2 separate regions of the Homo sapiens genome follow, and region 2 is linked to region 1. The links come from fine-mapping of genetic effects on gene expression. A gene starts in region 1. The other region holds a variant in brackets. All regions are shown on one strand. Distances are from middle to middle. Region 1 holds the start of NGB (neuroglobin). Region 2 overlaps POMT2 (protein O-mannosyltransferase 2).

The links. PIP is the estimated chance that this variant, and not a neighbour inherited with it, causes the effect.
Region 2: its variant is fine-mapped to the expression of NGB in nasal epithelium (TOPMed, PIP above 0.99).

What each region holds. Positions count from the first base shown.
Region 1 is chr14:77,270,006-77,272,911 of GRCh38, forward strand. NGB (neuroglobin) reads right to left here and starts at 1,201. Exons shown (of 4, transcript NM_021257.4): 1 at 844-1,201. The coding sequence starts at 932.
Region 2 is chr14:77,294,411-77,297,316 of GRCh38, forward strand. POMT2 (protein O-mannosyltransferase 2) reads right to left here. Exons shown (of 21, transcript NM_013382.7): 9 at 1,754-1,863. Among named protein-coding and RNA genes, the nearest start is that of NGB, 25 kb to the left of the region's middle. The variant C/T (reference allele first, on the strand shown) is at 1,169.

The sequences.
Region 1 (2,906 bases):
GCTGGGGGGAGTCCGGAGGCAGAAGCAGAGGCCCTCCTCGGCATTTGGGAGGTCTCACCGGGTAACTGAATGTTTTCCCCTTTTGTCTTGGGGGTGGTTTTGCGGAAGCCTGGGTAGAAGTTCTGGACTGTCCAAGGGTGCCAAGGATAGGTAACACCACGGTGAGGGAAGCAGTGCCCGGTTGGTGATAGCGGAAGGGTTACCAAAACTGCGAGCTGAGGTTGGAGACTGGCCTTCCCTTCCCACCCGGCCTGCACACCCCCCACCCCTCTCCCCTGCGGTGAGGCTCCCGCATCTGTCACCCCTTCCCCGGCTGCTCTCTGGCTCTTTCCTCGGAAAGGTTTGTCTTGTTGGTTGTCAGGGATCCACACACCTGGAGCCAGACCGCTCACACGCGGGCGCAGGAGCTCGCCCCACACATCTCCCTTCCCCGGCTCTCGGGGCACCCCAGTACCCTGATACCGGCAGCGGGGTGCACCCCTGCAGTCGCTACCTAAGGAAGACGCAGGAGGCACAAGGCGGGGTGGAGGCGCCGCGCAGGGACGGAGGTCCACCCGCCCAGATGTGGGGAGATCCGCGGGAGGGGATCCCGCCCGGCCCGGTGAGCCCCGCTGGGAGAGTGGTGTGCGGCGCTGGTTGGCAACAGGCGCCCACGGTCGAGAGAGAGGCAGAGGGGCTGTGCCACCCGTCGCCGCGCCCCGCTCCTCTGGCGCACATCTGGCAGGCGCCCCAGCGCCCCGGCAGCGGCCAGTTTTCCCTCCTTCGGGGCCGGTCCTGCCGCGTGACCCCTTTCCCGCCGAGGCAGCCTCCACCCGCATCCCCGGGCGCTCGTGTAGCCCTCACCTGGCAAACAGGACGGTGCCGTGCTCCAGCGGGCTGCGGCTCACTGCCCGCCAGCTCTGCCGGATCAGCTCGGGCTCCGGGCGCTCCATGCTGTCCCGGGGACGCGGAGCGCGGGGCTGGGACCCTCAGGGCTCGGGTGCCGTCACCGCACGTGCCGCGCCATCTCCTCCGCGACGCGGTCCCCTCCGCCCCTCGTACGCCCCCCGTGCCTCCGCCCGGCGGGGGCCGCAGCCGCTCCTTCCCTGGCGCGGGAGAGAAAAGGCGCGCGGCCAGTCGTAGGTGGAGACACCCCAGCTGTGCTTCCGGGGACCCCGCTTGGCCGCTGCGCCCTGCGCCCCGCAGCCGCCAGAGCCGCCCCACCCCGCGACGCCTGGGCTGGGCGCTTTAAAGCCGCCACGGCCCCCGCCCCCTCCAGGCCAGCAAGGCGCGCGCTCCCTCCGCCAGCCGCTATGGTGGCCTGGGAAAGGCCCGGCCTGCAGAACGTAACTGACATCGCGGAGGCTCTCTGGGCCTCAGTTTCTCCTCCCGAGCCCCGAGGGCACTGTGTTGAATTTGGTCGCCTCAGGTAGGCGCTGCATGCGCCCCCTCTCCACAGGCCCCTCAACTCACGCATTGCCAGAGGCATTTGAGTTTGCCACCCACCTGGCCTGCAGGTCAGGCCTGGGGAGGCGGCCTAGGGGCCTAGTTCTCGGTCTGACTAGGGCACCAGCACACGTTGGGGGCCACCAGGGCTTTCAGCCGTAGGGACAGGGCCAAGACCACAGCCATTCCCAGCCAGGCCTGGGTTTTTTTGAGACTCCATCTTTAGAAAGCCGTGAGATCCAGTTCTAATCCCAGCTCTGCTTGGCCAGGGTGGAATCTTGAGGGAGTTCAGCTCTAACATTCTACCGTTCCATGATTTAATTTTAATTTTAATTTTAATTTTTCACCTCTTCCCTCCCTGGGCCTTCCCCACTTCCATGATTTTTCATCTTTTTGTTTGTTTGTTTGAGACGGAGTCTCACTCTGTCGCCCAGGCTGGAGTGCAATAGCGTGATCTCGGCTCACTGCAAGCTCCGCCTCCCGGGTTCACGCCATTCTCCTGCCTCAGCCTCCCGAGTAGCTGGGACTACAGGCGCCCGCCACCACGCCAGGCTGATTTTTTGTATTTTGAGTAGAGACGGGGTTTCACCGTGTTAGACAGGATGGTCTCGATCTCCTGACCTCATGATCCGCCCACCTCGGCCTCCCAAAGTGCTGGGGATTACAGGCGTGAACCACTGCGCCCGGCCTTTTTTTTTTTTTTTTAACGGAAGTACTGTTTAATTTTTTCAATAGAAGTTCAGATAATAGAATCCATGCTCCCCACTCAGGGTGTGCAATTGGCCACCTGCCAATTACAACTAAACTTTTCTCTTTCAAGCAGAAAGTTCCTCAAGCCCCAGCCCAGTGCTGGTGGCCCAGGTTTGGGAGAGCAAGCCCGTTTTCACCTTTATTTCTCTCTCATTATTCCCTCAGGGGTCTCCGAGCCTATCTCCTCTGTCTGTCCACGCCTCTCTGGCCCTGTTTCCTCAGTTGTGCAGCAAAGGGGTTGGGTGGTGAGGTCTCTGGGACCTTTTAGTCCACCTCCTTTAGTTCCATGGGTAGAAGGTGGGTGTTCTTGAGCCCCTGGTTATGAACAGCTGGGGCTCCATGCCCAGCCCTGTGCTAGACATGGAGTGGCGAGTCCTGGTCTTTAAAATTTCTCCTTCTGGCCCTGAATCAGAACTGAGTGCCTCAGCAGAACTTTTCTTTCCTACTCCTAGCCATGCCCCAGGAAATCATCTAGCTGTTCTCCCTCTTCCAAGGACTCAGGAGTTTGTGGTAACCCCTATTCTATTTCCCATTTCCTCACAAATCTCTGGGCTGGAGCAGGAGAGCAAGGCTATAAGGCAGCCTGGAAAAGCTGGTGTCCTAGGGTCCAAGAGGTCTCCAAGCAAGAACACAAAGTGATTGGGGCTGAAGGAACAAGACGTGACTAAACTTCCAGCTTGGGGTCCCGTGGACCTGCAGCCAGGTGCAGCAGGTCACAGGGCAAGGACACG
Region 2 (2,906 bases), 24 kb after region 1:
TCCCCGGTTCAAGTGATTCTCCTGCCTCAGTCTCCTGAGTGGCTGGGATTACTGGCACGTGCCATCAAGCCCGAGTAATTTTTTTGTATTTTTAGTAGAGATGGGGTTTCACCATGTTGGCCAGGCTGGTCTCAAACTCCTGACCTAAAGTGATCCGCCCACCTCGGCATAAGCCACCGCACCTGGCCAGAGATCTGATGGTTTTTAAAACCATTTTTAAAATGGGATTTTCTCTGCACAAGCTCTCTCTTTGCCTGCCGCCATCCACATAAAATGTGACTTGCTCCTCCTTGCCTTCCACCGGGGTTGTGAGGCCTCCCCAGCCATGTGGAACTTTAAGTCCAATTAAATCTCTTTCTTTTGTAAATTGCCCAGTCTCAGGTATGTCTTTATCAGCAGCATGAAATTGCACTAATACATACTGAGTCACTTTCTAGCAACTAAAAGGGAAATAAAAATAAAGCATTTGGAGAGAGACAACTTTTTGCAAAGAACAAATCTTTGCAAAGTAAAGATTCCATGCTTTTTGCCTCTGTTCACTGTCCTTTGTCATAATTATTGCCTCCAAACTGGTTCCTTGTGAGCTATCACATTTCCACTAAAGTTACCTTTCTAAACTAGAGATCTAATCATAATCATAATAATTTTGATTGCCTCCCTAATGTCTATGGAGCAAAGTCAAATCTACTATAACACAGGCCTCTCCCCAATATGGCCCCACCAACCTCTTCAGCATCCTGCTTCTCCCTCTCAGGCACCATCCACTGCAGCCACACAAACACTCCTTAACATGGACACAGCATCGTTCACTCATTCAGATGATACTCACATGGCTAATCTTTCATAAGCACTTCACATTGTTATCTCATTTAATCCTCACAACTGCCCTTTGATGGAGAGAGGTACTACTCATTTTCCCCAACTTAAAGAGGAGGATACAGGCTGGGCGCGGTGGCTCATGCCTGTAATCCCAGCACTTTGGGAGGCCGAGGCAGGTGGATCATGAGGTCAGGAGATCGAGACTATCCTGGCTAACACGGTGAAACCCTGTCTCTACTAAAAATACGAAAAATTAGCCAGGCGTGGTGGCGGGTGCCTGTAGTCCCAGCTACTCGGGAGGCTGAGGCAGGAGAATGGCGTGAACCCGGGAGGCGGAGTTTGCAGTAAG[C/T]TGAGATCACGCCACTGCACTCCAGCCTGGGTGACAGAGCAAGACTCCATCTCAAAAAAAAAAAAAAAAAAAAGAAGAGGATACTGAAGCACAAGAAGATGAACTTGTCCAAAGTGACACTCTATATGAAAGCAGGCTTCACACCCCGATCATCTAGTCTGGTTCCCAGGTCTGTGTTCATAAATACCACACTTTATTCATCACCCATCCCATAGCAGGCACCGTGCTAGGCAATTGAGCCTTCCAGGAGCTAGCAATCAAGTACCAAAGAGACGGCGGGAAGTAAGCATGCACAGTTCAATATGAGAAGGTTTACCACGTAGGCATGTGGAAGGTGCCACCAAGCCTCTCATCAGAGGGGCACCCCACCCAGCACCATGGAGAGGTGGGACATGGTTGTCACTAAAGAACACCTATGCTGATGCCTAGAGAAGCTGGGGTTAGCCAGAGAAAACAGAAGGGTGCAGGGCTAGGAAGAATGTTTCAAGCAGGGCGAACAGGATGAGCAAAGGATAGGAGGCAAGAGAGTGAACTGTCATGGCGAACAGCATTGCTGCCGTACAAGTGCACAAAAGGCTCACTGACCTGCTGCTGACGGGCACCAATGCCCTCGGGGTAGAGGTGCCTGTGGGAGTGCAGATAGCCGATGGCCATCCGGAGGTTCTTCACAGTGATCACAGAGCCGTAGGCCAGGTCTGGGAGGAAGGGAGACAGCAGAGGGGTGAGCTGGCACAGTGCCAGAGGCTGTCCGTGCCTGCGAGGAGCCTCGGAAGCCACAGGGCTCACTAACCCTCTGCGAGACTCCCCTGGGCCCTGGACTGAAGCCCAGCTACCTTCTCACTCCCATGGAGCCGACTCAAGACAGAGTTCACCACAGGGCCCACTTACTCCCCCGCCTCCTGAGGGCTTCAGAAGAAGCTTGTGTTAACACTGTCATTATCAAAGCACTACGTGTAACAGCAAAAGACGAAAAACAACTTGTCCTTCTCAAGGTCTCCACATGGATTCAATGGAATAAAGAAGGAAGTATCTTCTGTCTTCGCCTGGAATGTTCTCCAAGATACAGCATTTTGACAAACCATTTTTTTCACTCTATATCCTTTCGTGCCTTTTGAATCTAGTACCATATGAAATAACTGTTCAATGGTGTTTTGTTTTACTCTGAATTAAAAAACAAAAAACACAGAAAACCACTTCTCAAGAGCATCCCCTGCTCCTATAGGCCCTGAGTTATTGAGAAACCTTTTTTCCTTAATACTGTCCTTCTTCCAATCCGCTGGAATGACCTGCTCCTGTTTTTCTTTGTTCATTCAGTGGACCAGAAGAATTACACACTGGATCCAAAGGTGGAGGAGGCCTGCCTGTGGCCCTGGAAGAGCCCTGTCTACAAGGAAGATGGCTTCACACACTGACAAGTATAGGACAGTGGGCAAGTGCCCCACAAAGGCGTGACAATGTGTGACATGGTGGGAATGGTGGGAACTCGGAACAGGCCAAATTCTCTCCCAAGGATTAAAGAGAGGACGACTTGATCGAAGAGGTGACAGCTGAACTAGGCCTTTAAATAATGAGCAGGAATTTGCTAAACTCCACAGCTGTGTTCTTCTGAGTTCTCAGGCAGGCCAACCTCGGCAGCCCTGCACATGGCTGACCACCTTTATTTCTTGAAATGCTCTCTGTTCCCACTTCTCGACCGCACACTCTCTCAAGGGCTGCTCCTCCGCAGTCTCCTCTCCTA